2 linked regions of the Homo sapiens genome follow. The protein of the gene in region 1 interacts with the protein of each later gene in a biochemical or structural test. Each region holds a gene or a part of one and is shown on either strand. Other genes may lie near its edges.

Region 1 (7,282 bases):
TGGCCTCAAGTGATCTGCCTGTCTTGGCCTCCCAAAATGCTGGGATTACAGGCATGAGCCACCATGCCTGGCCAGTTTTTGTTGTTGTTGTTGTTTGTTTGTTTGTTTGTTTGTTTGTTTGTTTTACTGCAAATTGAATCACTGGAGTTGTCCCTGTGCTTAAAACCCAATCCTTCAAGTTGGCTTCTTTTTTCCCTCAGGATGGAATCCAGTCTCCTACATAAGACTTCAAGGTTCATAGTCAGGCCCCTGCCTAAGCCTTTGGCCTTACCTTGTACCATCTTCACTTCAAATCCCATTCATTAGCCACTGAGTTTCTTCAAAACTCCATGGTCTAACCTGAGCCAGGTGTGGAGGAAAAACCCTGGGCAGAAGTGAGTTCTAGTCCAGCTCTCCTACTTCTCTGCTGTGTAACATTGGGTTCTTTCAAGTATAACACTCTATGCCAATTCATACCTGGTCTAATGTCTTCATCTGCAATGGTGTCTTTCTTCCCTCCAGAAGAGAGAATATAAAATTTGGAGCACAGGTTGGGAAGGGTTCTGTGGACACTTCTCTGCCCACTGATAATTACGATAAGGATAATGATAGTGAATGTTTGCTGAGAGCTTACCATGCATCAGGTACTGAGACAAGCACTTTATGTGCGTGACTCATTTCCTTTGCACAAAACCCAATCAGGTAAGTATATAGTCATCCTGTTTTATGAAGGGATAAAGAACTGCATCTCAAAGGGGTGATAGTAACTTGATAGAGGTCACATAGCTCATGACCGATAGAACAAAGATCTGATCCTGCATTAGCCTGGTTTTTGAGTGCTCTGAACCACTTTGTTTAACTAAATAACTAGAGGGACAGGGGATGCATAGCCCACTTCTTAAAAGTGCTTTGTGGAAAGATAGGTTCAAACTGTTACTGCGTTTGGAGGGTCTTGGGTATAATCATGCTTATCTGTACCTTTTAAAGTAAGGACTAGTCCAATTCCCCAAAGTCTAAACACAGAAATCACCAAAGCACTAATGGCATCCCTCAATAACAGCTCTTTTGTCTTCAGGTCCCCAGGCTGACCTGAACAAACACACCTGTGTATGTTTCCTCAACAGCCCCCCCAGTGCATTTTCTCCATGAGTGTGTCTGATTGAAGTAGGTTCCAACCATTCAATATTCCCCAACTTCCATGCCCTGTGACAACTGCGAAAAATTTCCATCCAACCTATAATGTCTTCATGGCTGAGGGTGGCCAGATAGTGCAGGTTAGGGATGAAAGAGAGAAGGCATGAAGTATGTTGCTGACCTATGAGATACCTCTAGTGGGGGATGCCTCAGACACTGCCACTCTTGTTAAGCTGCAAGTAAAGTAGAGGGAGAGTGTCGCTATGGGGAAGTAAGCTGTCTCTCACCTACCCATCACTTATCCACTCACCCACTCTCACTCAACAATTTAAGTAACTACCAAGTGCCTAGCACCATTTTAGGTTATAATAGATTTTAGAGAAGCATGAGACAAATTCTCTGCTTCAAGGAGCTCATGGTCTGGTGGAGAAGACAAGAAATGCACAATTGAGAGATTAGCATTAAGCATTAAGTTGGCTCCTCACAGAAGACAGGCCACAAGGGAGATTTTGTGTCATTAGTCACAATGTGACTCTAGAGTGATCCCAGACCTTCAACTACACATACTACTAAAGAAAAATAGTGTGTGGAAACATGGATCCACCGTGGTGCGGGGGCAGGCGGTGGGAGGCGGTGCTGACATCCTCTGCCTGGGACCCTGGAAGTTAGTTTCTGCTTGTCAACACATGTCTCTTATTGACCCTGCCATAAATGAGTGAAAGAGTTGAAAGGGCTGAGTCCAAAAAAGGATGAACCAAGGAAGATGACCCAGGAACAGAATACCTACAGTGCCTTCTGAAATATTCTACCATAGCTAAATGGTGAGCATTTGTAGCTGGCCAGAAATAGATGCACATCAATTACAAGAGAGTCCTCCCCAAGAAGGGATTCATAGACCAAGAAAAAGGCCAACAAGAGGGATTATCTTTATGCACTGGGGAATCTCAGGACCAGAAGCTACTGTTTCCATCCTCCTTTCTCAGGCAGGACCATACTTCACCTAAAAACATGATAGCATTTGCTCCTGCCAAGAATGACTCCAGAAGCTGCAGAACACATATTTCTGCCAGCTTTGGGGGTCTGCTCATGTGAAGTTCTTTGGCCCTTTCAATCTGGGAAAAGAAAAAAAGTCACCTTGTCCTTGTACACCAGTACATTCTCCTTGTTTTTTGTTTTTAATAAAAACTGGCCTGTGCCAGAGCAACATACCATGTGACACTGCCAATCAGGGAGGCTCCAACCATGAGGTAGCAGACACAGAGCCCAGGAAACCAGGAAGAAAAATTAGGCCATGAAAAGCTATCACCAGGATAACTTATGCCTCTTCCTAGCTCATGTGGTGTAAGATGGAAATGAATTCAGCTGCACCTAAATCAAAGGGATGACAAGCAATTCAAACCCCTATCTCGCTCAAAATGAGCAAGAGCTGCTGACAGGTGAAAGCCAAAGAATTTTGGTGCAGATAAGTGGAGAGTGTAAGAAAGAAGTATATCCTTGAATTTTGTGAACGTTTTAGAAACATGATTTCAGAAATGTAAAATCAGGTGCTGAATTACTGCAAAAGGACAACAGCTCAAAGTGTTGTTTCTTACTTAAGCATCTTAATAATAACAATAACAATCATTACAGTTAACATTTAAAGAGTACTCACTTTTCCCAGGGACTCTTTCAAATGTCTTGTCTCTATTACCTTAATTAATTACTGTGACCCAATTATGTTGGTATTAACATCCACTTACAGGTGAGAACCCCCAGGTGATAGAGGTTAATTAACTTGCTCATGGTCACATAGCTAGTAAGTGTTAGAGTCAGGATTCAAATCCTGGAAGTCTAATTCCAGAGCCCACAGGTTTAACTACCATATGGTGTTGTTTTTAAAGGGTTTAAATAGGTGACTAAATATTGATATATGTCATTCATAAAACTCATGGTGAGGCTCAACAACAGAGGAGTCTTCTCACTTATTATGAGGTGAACACGATTATTACAGTCCCTTATTTGTGCCTGAAATAACTGATGAGCAGGTTAAGTGCCCTGCCCAGGGACATCCAGGCCTCACCTGCCTCTGTCTATCAGAAAAGCATTGATCAGGGTTTTTTTTGTTTTTTGTTTGTTTGTTTGTTTGTTTTTTGAGATGGAGTCTCGTTCTGCCACCCAGGTTGGAGTGCAGTGGCACGATACTGGCTCACTGCAACCTCTACCTCCCAGGTTCAAGCAATTTTCCTGCCTCAGCCTCCTGAGTAGCTGAGACCACAGGTGCATGCTGCCAGATCCTAATTTTTTTGTGTGTTTTAGTAGAGATGGGGTTTCACTGTGTTGCCCAGGCTGGTTGTGAACTCCTGAGTTCAAGCAATCTGCCCACCTCAGCCTCCCAAAGGGATGGGATTACAGGCGTGAGCCACCGCGTCTGGCTAATCAGCTCATTTTTTAAAGGCAGCTCTCATGAGTCACTCCTGTGTCTGTCCAGGATCCCAGGCCATCCCGCCCTCACATTTCTGTAAAATGTGGAAGCTTAGTCTTGGAGATATAACAAGTTTTCCTTCTATGGTAATAAGAAAGCAAACCCAAAGACCTAATTGTTGGCAGAAGTCTGGCTTTCATCCTTTGGACAGTTCAGTTCACCTCAAAGAGATGTGGGACAGAAGGTAATGTCATCACAGTTCCAGAAGAGCTTGACAAAACATCCGTCTACACCTCCTCCCAGCTCCTCCCCCAGGTTGGAAGGCTTAGTTGACCCTGCCTCCCTCCTGCTCCTGCCGCCCTCCCTCCTGCTCCCACTGCTTGCTGAGGTTTACGCCCAGTGCATTTCATCCAAAGGGACCCAGATCCAGGTACAGAACACTTCCTCGCTGGTTCTCAAATTTAAGAATCCCAAGGAGTTATTTTATTCATCCTTCTCCATCTGCTGTCTCCCTCTTCACTTTCCTGGTATCATACACAAAGATTACTGCCCTTTCATTCACTAAAGAATTATCTTCTTATCCCTATTCTCCTCCTTTTCTTGTTCTTTATGCCACTTACGTATCAGAGAGGGCTATTGCTTTAGCCTTAAACAGTCTGGTTTTGAATCTTTGTCTCACACATGAAACGTGTGACCTTGTGCAAACCACTTACCTTTCTAAGCCTATGCTTCTTCCTCTGCAAAATGGAATAATAAGGGTTACTCTGAGGCAGGAGGATCGTTTGAAGCCAGGAGTTCAAGACCAGACTGGACAACAAAGCAAGGCCCTATATCTACAAAAAATTCTTTAAAAAATTAGTTGGGCATGCTGGCATGCACCTGTACTCCCAGCTGCTCGGGTGGCTGAAGCAGGAGGATCACTTGAGCCCAGGAGTTCAAGGCTGCTGTGAGCTATGATTGCACCACTGCACTCCAGCCTGGGTGACAGAGCAAGACCTCTCTCTAAAAATGAAAATAATAAATAAATAAATAAATAATAAACAAACAAAAAATGTAAAAACAAGGGTTCCTATTTCACAGAGTTGTTGCAGGATTGGGAGTTTAAATGAAGAACCTATGTCAAGTGCTGAGCACAGCGCCCTGCACACAGTAAGTGCACAATAAATGCTGGCCGTTATGATGATGAGGCCAGCAAAGGAGGGTCTGGTGAACAGGACCACTTCTCATTCTAGGGAAGCCTGGTACTAAGCCACTTTCCCATATCAAGAGTTCCTGGGAGTTGCTAGTGATGGTGCTGCCTGGGGTAGCAGGTAGGAGAGGAGGCAATGATGTAGCATGTAACAAAAATAATTTCATTTCTAATGTCTTTCTCCTGCTGGGCCACTTAGAACCCAAACAATAACAACAAGGAGGGGGTGGAAATGAGAAGGGCAGGCACGTTCTGAAGGAGACCAATAACAAATGAACAGGCGCCAGGACTCCCTTTGGCTCCCAGACATCTGCAGGGGATTATCGTTGGGGCCACAGCTGCAGTTCTGTGCTGAGCGACAGCTTCCTGGAAGGCAGGACTGCCCAGGCTAACTGCAGGCCTATTGATGGAGCTCCTGGGAGCCAGGTCTGCCTGACTTCCCTTACCGCCCTCTGTCTGGAAGCAAGCTGACATTACCCAGAGGGCTGCAGGGGAAACCAGAGGTTTTCCCTCCTTCCCCTCCCTGTCCCTTCAGACAGCAAAGAATTCCCTCATCTCCTACTGGAAAAAGTAAAAATCCTTACAGGTGACATCAGATTATGACAAAATTGCCCAAACTACACTAAGCTGATACCTATATTCAATGCATATTTAACATCAGCCTCTTTCAGGGCCTCCTAAGAGTCTACTTCTCCTCTGCTCTCACCTCTGTACACTGTCCCATACTCTCCCAAATGCCCCTAGGAGTTTCCAGGCTTCTGAGTTCAAAGCACTGCAGCAGCACAGTTTCTTCTATCCAGGGGAAGAGGGAGGCCTCAGACCCCAGTGTGTCATCTCTGACTCCTCCCTATACACTAGAGCCACCAGGGTCCTTGGCCCCTCTGCAGTGAAACACTCTCATGTATCCTAGGGAGAGAAGAGGCTGTGCCTTCCAAGGGCATCCCAGCTGCCAAGGGTATTGATTTAACCCATTTACCAGATTAAGGTGAAAGGAAAAAGAAAAGAAAAATCTGCAATTCTGAGGGCAAATTTCTCTCCTTTCTCTGGACCCAAATCAAAGAAAACCAAGTGGCTGAGTCTTATAGTTTTATTACTCCTCCATCCCCATGTGCTGACACTATAATCAAGCTATTTTCCAGGCCTGTACATTTAGATAATATGATTCTATTGTCAAAAAATAAGAAAGTTTTGCATCCATTTAAGTACAGAGGAAAGAAATCTCCAATTACATTGGTCATGGGAACAGGTGAGAGGCAAAAGTATATTAATATTAGATTCCAACACCATTAGAGTAATTTAAAAGGCCAGAGATAACATTAGTCTACTGCTCAAATTGGTAAATAAGCAATTTGTGCATCCTTAGTGGCTCCATGGTATATTCTGGAGAGCAGAAGGGCTTATACCTAATCCCAAGGTCCTTCCAAGGCCACAAAATGCCTTACTGGAGGTGAGAAGAGGGAAAATGGTGCTGGGGTTCAGCTAAGTAAGAGGCTACCTACAAAGGAGGGTGCCTGCTGAGAAGTTGAATCAACCTGTGTCCTTTCTGCTGCCCATGGTTTCCGAGTGTTTCCTATATGCAGGATGCTCCTCTGCTAAGCAGAGTACCTGGTAGGATGGAGAAGCTCCAGTTGCTGAGTCCAGTCCTGGTGTTCAGAAACTGGAAAATTCATTGGAAAAAGTTCTGTTTAGGAGAACTTTAATAAAAGAAGAAAGACCATTGTATTTCTGGACTAAGGAAACAGCTTCCCTGTTTGGAGTCAGGGGCATCTGGCATGACCTCTGAGGAGCCCAAGAAGATAACCTAAGAATCTAAAGTCCTATAAACTATATCCCAGGAAAATGCAAATGACTGGGCTGCTGTTCTAAGCTATTTTCAAGACCTCAACTCTTAGGTAACTGTAGCCTGCTGATATATAACTTGATTCTGGGAGATATTACAAATATGACTTAGGGTTCTGGCATTATAAAACCTCAACTTGATTCTTCTCTCTTCCTAGGTGTTGAGGCACCTTCACTGTTGGAGATTCATAGGTATTAAGCCACAAAGCGGGGAGAAGTGGTGGGTGCCAACACAGGATTGGCTCAAGGAAGTCTCATCATATCTGTCTCTCCTGGGCGATGTGCTCATATGTGTGCATGCACGTGTATGCAAACACACACAAACACATACACATACACACAGTGCTATCTTCACAGCCACACTTTTTTGTTAACACTAAAATGTAACTTTTACTTGCAGGGGAGATGGAAACCATTCTCTCCAGGCAGAGTCCCCACGTCTTTCCCCTTATACTTGTTTATTCAGAGAATGGTGACCCCAGACCAGTCCGGCTTCAGCAAGACAATCTCAGGAGTATGTGAGGCCATATTTCTAATGACCCTAAGTTCCCATTTGTTTCCCATAGTATCAAAGAAAGAACAGAAGCGTTTGTCTCAATTTCAGATTCTCCTATATCATTCTCAAGATAATTGCATTTTCTAGACAGAAATAATCCACCTTTGTAGGTGAAGGTACAAGACTAACTAGCCCACAAGCATCATTACTAGCCTTTTTACCCCTACAAGCCTCCTTGCTTATG
Region 2 (7,282 bases), on another chromosome or scaffold:
TACATTAGAACTTTGAATGTGCTTTATTATGCCACAAATTCCCAGGAGATTTAAGAAATAGTATTTCTGAACAGGAATAATAATTTCACAAATACTAACACTTTATTGACAATAGACAAGTCTTTTAGGGTAGTGCACATGTACTTAAAAACTACCTTCTACCAATCTCAACACTTTTTATAAATTTTCAGGTGAAACTGTAGCAGATCCTACTTTATTTTTCAATGGTTAGTGTAAAATTCTGTATGTAAAATAAGTACATATTTTGAGATGGAAGAAGGACTGCATGTGAAATGCTTTGCCTAAGTTGTAAGGCTCCTGTCTTTACGCTATCATTAAAGGCCAAAAAAATCACTGCTAGAAATGTTCCCCAAAAAATTCTTAAACAGCTCAGTCTTTAAAAGTATTAATAATTTTTTTTTTTTTTTTTTTGGAGACAGAGTTTCGCTCTTCTTGCCCAGGCTGGAGTACAATGGCGCAATCTCAGCTCACCGCAACCTCTGTCTCCTGGGTTTTCAAGCGATTCTCCTGCCTCAGCCTCCTGAGTAGCCAGGATTACAGGCATGCGCCACCACACCTGGCTAATTTTGTATTTTTAGTAGAGACGGGGTTTCTCCATGTTGGTCAAGCTGGTCTCAAACTCCCGAACTCTGGTAATCCACCCGCCTTGGCCTCCCAAAGTGCTGGGATTACAGGCATGAGCCACTGCACCCAGCCTAATAACTGATATAATTTTTTTAAGTGAAATGAAATGTTCCTTTATTTACATATGAATTAAATAGAAAATTCAAAGTAATTCTTTTAATAAAAACCCATATACTAATATATTTTAAGGTTGGATACTAACAGCATTTTCACAAGATCCAAAGTGTGGATGACGAACTAGGCAATAAGGACATGTGTGCCACATAACTAAGGGTAACTAAAGGAAGATGAGTACCTCACAACCAAAAGCAGTTAACTATGCCTGGCATACCACCCTGTCATGTGGGCAGATCACTGTTCCCATGCTGGGTAAGAGTCTCCAAGAAGGGAAGCCCTTATGCAGTAATTCTGTAACTATATTAAATTTGGTAATCTAACATTAAACTTTTTCGTGAGCAGTGAATATACACATGGTCATATGAAAACTGCCCTGGAGACCGGGTTAATTATTAAATAAACTAAAAGGGGAGAAATGCTGATAGATAAAATTATGTCAATTCCAGGGTGTTCAATGGAATAAAGAAACAGCAGCAGCTGCTTCAAAAGTAGACTATGATCAGAAACCTCAGATGGTAACCTTTAAAAATTGTGGAATCCAGAGTCTCAACCTAAACCTACATAGGAGCTACAGCCAGGGAGTTCTTTCTAAGTTCCTCAAGTGATTCTGATGATTGGCCAAGCTGGAAACTTCTGAACTGGGGGAGAAAGCCAACCTAGGTAAATGTAGAGACTTTTAGAATTCAACATTTGATTATCATTTACTCCACATTTTCCCCCAGCTGTCTCACCTTCTCTATTTTTCTAACAGTGAACAATAAAAGGGCTTGGCAAGTGAAGGAAAAAGTCAGTAGAGTACCTAAAATGGATTTGACTATATTCAAGCCACTTTCATATATTAACTAGATAAAAGGATACCATACTGCTATTTGAAATTCAATCACAAAGCAAAAATGTCATAATTTTAATGTATTTTAAGGGAAGACGGGGTTCTTAACATGAATATGTAATACAAAAACAATTCTAAATAATAATATTTAATAGAAGAAAAAATCTGTATAATTATTTAGAAGTAACTCTGTTTTTAAAATTTCAATGTTAGGAAGAAAATCCCTTAAATTTGAAATAGCGGAATATTCTCTCATATGAAAAAACTGTGTCCCAGTGTTATTCTTCAACTTAGAAATTAGGCAAAGTATTTTAGTACTATTTCTGCTTACATATTGTTTTGTATGAATGTTTTAAGTATGAATAATATTTTGGTTTTTAGTGTGCATGCTAATATAAAAATATGGATTTTTTTCTCCTACACTGACTTTGTACACTTTCCAGGCCCGAAGAATAAAAAACTTTTAAAATATCCTGTGTTCACTAGCAAACCTTGGAACGATAAAAAAAGGTAGTACCTACATAAGAAATTTTACATTGAAATTACAATTGTATGTTTTTCAGGAGTTAAAGTGATTCAATTTTTCAATATTCAAACACAAAATAGTAAATTTTTATTTACTATAGCACAATTCAAGTATTCTCTTAAATTTATATTTAGTCAACTAAAACATGACAGTGACTTTATAAGAGCTTTCCTTTTAAAAGGTTGCTGTTATAAAAAAGTATGACTCTATTACTCTAAATGCTTAGAATAAGTGGAAAGAACAAATGACAGTAGACAAAAACCTTTATGAGTGAGTCATCAACACATAAAAGGTTGCACACATCAGTAATAGGACATGTGAAGGTAACATCCCAAAAGTATTTGAACTCATGTAAACAAAGACTATGTATATTCCTAAGGGAGAAAATGTACTACCAAGATAAAATATATTCAAACGGCTGTGACTTTAAACCATGTATTAGTTGAATACCACACAAAACCAAAAAGGCATTATCTATCATTTAATAACTGAAAGATATTACTTATTTGTGAGATAAAAGGATAATGCTTTTTTAAAACCAATAATGAAAAAGAAGTATTTTGAAAACAAACATCTGTTTGCTAGAAATAAATATACTTGCTTAGTTATTTTAATGTATTGCAGCATAGGAATATTGTGCTAGCATTGACCATTAACATTCAATCAGTAGTTTAAAATATTTTTTCCACATTGAGTCTTGAATCCTCTACCTGGTCAGCTGACCCACAACTTTCAAAAGAGTTTTATTTTCCTGCTTTAGCTGTTCATTTTCATCTTCTATGTCATCTAGGTCCTTAAGAAAAAAAAAAGACACTTTAAAAATACTTAAAAATATTTGAGGAGAGATGAAAACACTTAATACACATTAAAAATAATTCATACAACCAATTAATTTTGAAATGAGGGCAAGCTCTGAAAACAACTTTAGATGTAATATGCCCCACCAAAAAAGAGCATCCATTACTTGACTCTTCGTTCTTACAACAAGTGTATAGGCCAACTCTTACAGATCTTTCAGTTTTTCAAAGGAAGCCGAAAGTCAGAATTTTAAAATTGTGAATCTTCCAATTTTCAATCATCATAAATAAGTTAGTTTTTTAGCTAAACAAACTCCACTTCCCCTCCCTAAAACTGAGGCAAAAAAAAAAACTACCCATGCAAGCCATATATGGTATTGAGCCCTAGGTTGCAACCTTGTGTCAAATTAGTCATCAAAAGGTGCAGGTACAAGTTCTAGATGCACTCCTACCACTGTCTGATCTTTAAAGGTGTACAATGGGGATAACACTCTGGAGAGGTGACAAAACTGAGGCCTACGGAAAAGGGGATCTGGAGTATCTTGATCTGGATCAATTTTGTTTTCAGCTCCAGATCAATTTGTATGTTGGACTTTTCTACGACATTTTGAAGGAAAGGTTTTAGAGCTAAAATTAATTCAAAGCCACTAAATTAAGTATTCGCTCTCCAGCTTTAAAAGCATATGATCCAGCTCTTTTTTCCCTGTATTAATCCTTGTCCCAAACACACAACCATCTGGTTAAAACAAATTCACCATAAGTTTTAGTTACAAGAAACATTATTTCAAGACAGACTCTTTACTGTTAAAAAAGCAGACATTTATAGATTTATTCTTGCAGTTTAAAATAATAAATCTTGATGTAATCAATTTGAATCACTTGAACCCGGGGGGTGGAGGTTGCAGTGAGCTGAGATCGCGCCACTGAACTCCAGCCTGGGCAACAGAGAGAGACTCCTTCTCAAAAAATAATAATAATAATAATAAAGAGTACCAATTTTAGGGTTTTTTTTTTTTTTTTTTGAGACAGAGTCTTACTCTTGCTGCCCAGGCTGGAGTGCAGCAGCGCAATCTTGGCTCACTGCAACCTCCGCCTCCTGGGATCAAGCAATTCTCCTGCCTCAACCTTCTGAGTAGCTGAGATTACAGGTGCCCACCACCATGCCCAGCTAATTTTTCATATTTTTAGTAGAGTCGGGGTTTTACCATGTTGGCCAGGCTGGTCTCGAACTCCTGACTTCACGTGATCCGCCCTCCTCGGCCTCCCAAAGTGCTGAGATTACAGGTGTGAGCCACAGCGCCTGGCCAATTTTAGATATTTCTTGAGGCAACTCTGTGCCAGTGCCCTTACATATGGTAGTGACAAAGCGCCTGTCACCCTCAGATTTTAACAAAACAGAGAACAAATCCATAAATCAGTCTATCTCCAAAAGAATAAAATTAAGTGAGCTAAACTGATAACTGCCCAAAGGAAATCAGTTTTTGGAAGAAAATGATACCTCTTACTAATTATTATTTCACTAACAAAAGAACAAAGTGAATAATGCAATTAATAATTTCTTCATATTTATATATTTTCATCCAATTGCCAAAAAAAACCCCTCCAAACCTGAAATATGGTGAAATACTTACTCTATTTAATAAATCAATTTCTTCTTTGAGTTTTCCAATCATTTCCTCTTTATCTTGCATCAGTCTCACAAGTCTTAGGTTTTCTTGTCTTTCTCTTACTACTTCCTGGTAGATACAATTAAAAACCAGTAATTAGGAAGTAATTGTTTATTTATAATCTTCCTAAGTGGCATATATCTCCCCAATTTGGTAAAATATCTTACATACATGAAGATTTCCAATGAATCCCTTAAGACATTTGGTGAAGGAACAAAGATCCCACCACAAAAGGAATCAGAGAATGCACAGGAGATATTAGGATGCTCCTGAGTAAAGCTATGTTTATACAAGTCTTTAACAAAACTAATGTAATAGACTCAATGATTTAACCTCGTGTGTGTGTGTGTGTGTGTGTGTGTGTATGTATGTATGGCAGTGTTTCACTCTTGTCACCCAGGCTGGAGTGCAATGGCACCTTGGCTCACTGCAACCTCCACCTCCTGGGTTCAAGCGATTCTCCTGCCTCAGCCTCCCAAGTAGCTGGAATTACAGGTGCATGCCACCATGCCTGGGTAATTTTCATATTTTTAGTACAGATGGGGCTTTGCCATGTTGCCCAGGCTGGTCTCGAACTCCTGACCTCAAGTGATCTGCCCGCCTCAGCCTACCAAAGTGCTGGGATTACAAGCGTGAGCCACTGTGCCCGGCCTGTGATTTAACTTATTTAGCTTATCACCACTATAAGTTATGAACTACCTTATTTTTTAATGGGTATCTTGTTTGAAATAATTCAAAATTAATTTTTCTTAAAAATACAAAGTTTAAAGGAGATGGCCCAATAGAAACTCTAAACAGAAAAACAATGGTCCTCAGTTTTACTTCTGGCTCTGCCAGTTAACTGATAATGGATAAAAAGAAGGAACTAAAATAGATTACTGATTTTTAATTTTTTTTTTCTTTAAACAATGCAACATCTTTTTCAAAGACATCTTATTTAGAATCCAGGGCACTGGGCTTGGTCAGCCACCTTGGGGGCAAAAGGGAAGCAGAGCTCAAAAGGCCTTGCCCAGAACTTGGCTTCTTTCTTACTAAACCTCCTACAGAGCAATCAACCATCCATATCCCTTAGCTGCTGCCAACTACTAGCAATTCAATCCAAACTCTTGTGGAACTCACGAAGCCTTTCTGGGCAACTATCTTCAAAACTATTAGATTACATATTGTCTAAACTTTTTAATTTAAAATTATGAAATAATAGGCTGGGCACAGTGGCTCACGCCTGTAATTCCAGCACTTTAGGAAGCCGAGGCGGGTGGATCACCTGAGGTTAGGAATTCAAGACCAGCCTGACCAACATGGTGAAACCCCTTCTCTACTAAAAATACAAAAAAAGAATTAGCCGGGCTTGGTGGTGCATGCCTGTAATCCCAGTTACTTGGAAGGCTGAGGCAGAAGAAACACTTGAACCTGGGAAGTGGAGGTTGCAGTGAGCCGATACTGAGCCATTGTACTCCAGCTTAGGCAACAAGAGCGAAACTCTGTCTCAAAACTAAATAAATAAATAAAAATAAATAAAACTATGAAATAATAATTCCAAGAAGAAACTGTTGTTAAAGCTTAGAAATGTGACCTCAAAAAATCATAAATGTTATAAAATAGAAACAAGTTTTAAAAATGAAATTTCTTTACATAACATATATAAATTAGATCTTTAATAATATAGAGAATAATCTCAAGTAAAACAAAACACATTTTCAACAATTACAAAAGTATTCAACACCATTGCTAATTTTAGGGGTTGAATGTCTATGGCACAAACCTGAGACCCTATGGTTAATAAATTTATGCCAAGAGTCATCTGACTTGCACTGAAAGACACTTTTAAACAGGCATATTCTTAGACAAAATTGTTTCAAACACCAAAGATGGACCTAACTCAGATTTACTCCTGTAATTTGTAAAGTTACAAATGAAAATCTATTCAGACAATATAATAAATACACAGTAGTATATATTTGCCAGCTCAGACTTCTAACCACTTCAAAAACAAGGGCTTTTAATATACTAAAGGTAACAGTTGGCAGAAAAGCGCACATATTAAATATTAAGGAATATTATTTCCTTTCTCACTCAGTTGCTATGAAACAAAAGAATTCTAATGGTATATTAATTTTATCAATCTTAAATAACTTATAATCCATACCTTTTCAAGATCTTCAATTTTCTTTTCCAGTGTGCTACTTGAAACCAGAGTACCTGAAACATTTGCATCCCTGTTATATCTAGGGAACCCACTTCTATCTGTTCGAGAATATCTACTTGAGACATCTTCTTCAGAGACACTGGTTGTGCTGTGGAAATATAAACATTTTATTAAAATCCCTAGTATTCAGCAAGAAAAATGCCAAGAATATTTTCTATTGAGCTTAAAAAAATTAACATTCCCCAAGGACATATGGTTATAGTAGCAACTTATTTGTAACTGTAGAAGTTAATCATTATTCCCACACAATGAAAAAAATGTAAAAGTACCATTAATTCTTTCGACCAATATCTACTGAATAGGTGTTAAGTAACGAACACTGTTCTGGATACTGAAGACGTAACAGCAAACACAAACATGGACTCTGCCCTTCATAGAGCTTTTGGTTAAAAGGGAATATAACTAATAATAAAGCAAGATGATCAGTAAAATAAGGTCAGTGATGGATACTATGAGAACTACGATAGGACAGATCTCCCAGATTATCTTTTTTTT

What was found.
Region 2: the proteins of DRD2 (region 1) and PAWR form a complex in vitro, tested with the Homo sapiens proteins (one study listed by BioGRID).

The regions. Positions count from the first base shown.
Region 1 is NC_000011.10:113,465,322-113,472,603, forward strand, and holds part of DRD2 (D(2) dopamine receptor), read right to left. Parts: intron 1-7,282. UniProt on the Homo sapiens protein: Dopamine receptor whose activity is mediated by G proteins which inhibit adenylyl cyclase. Positively regulates postnatal regression of retinal hyaloid vessels via suppression of VEGFR2/KDR activity, downstream of OPN5.
Region 2 is NC_000012.12:79,589,784-79,597,065, forward strand, and holds part of PAWR (PRKC apoptosis WT1 regulator protein), read right to left. Parts: intron 6,876-7,282; coding exon 6,728-6,875; intron 4,651-6,727; coding exon 4,546-4,650; intron 2,911-4,545; coding exon 2,824-2,910; 3' UTR 1-2,823. UniProt on the Homo sapiens protein: Pro-apoptotic protein capable of selectively inducing apoptosis in cancer cells, sensitizing the cells to diverse apoptotic stimuli and causing regression of tumors in animal models.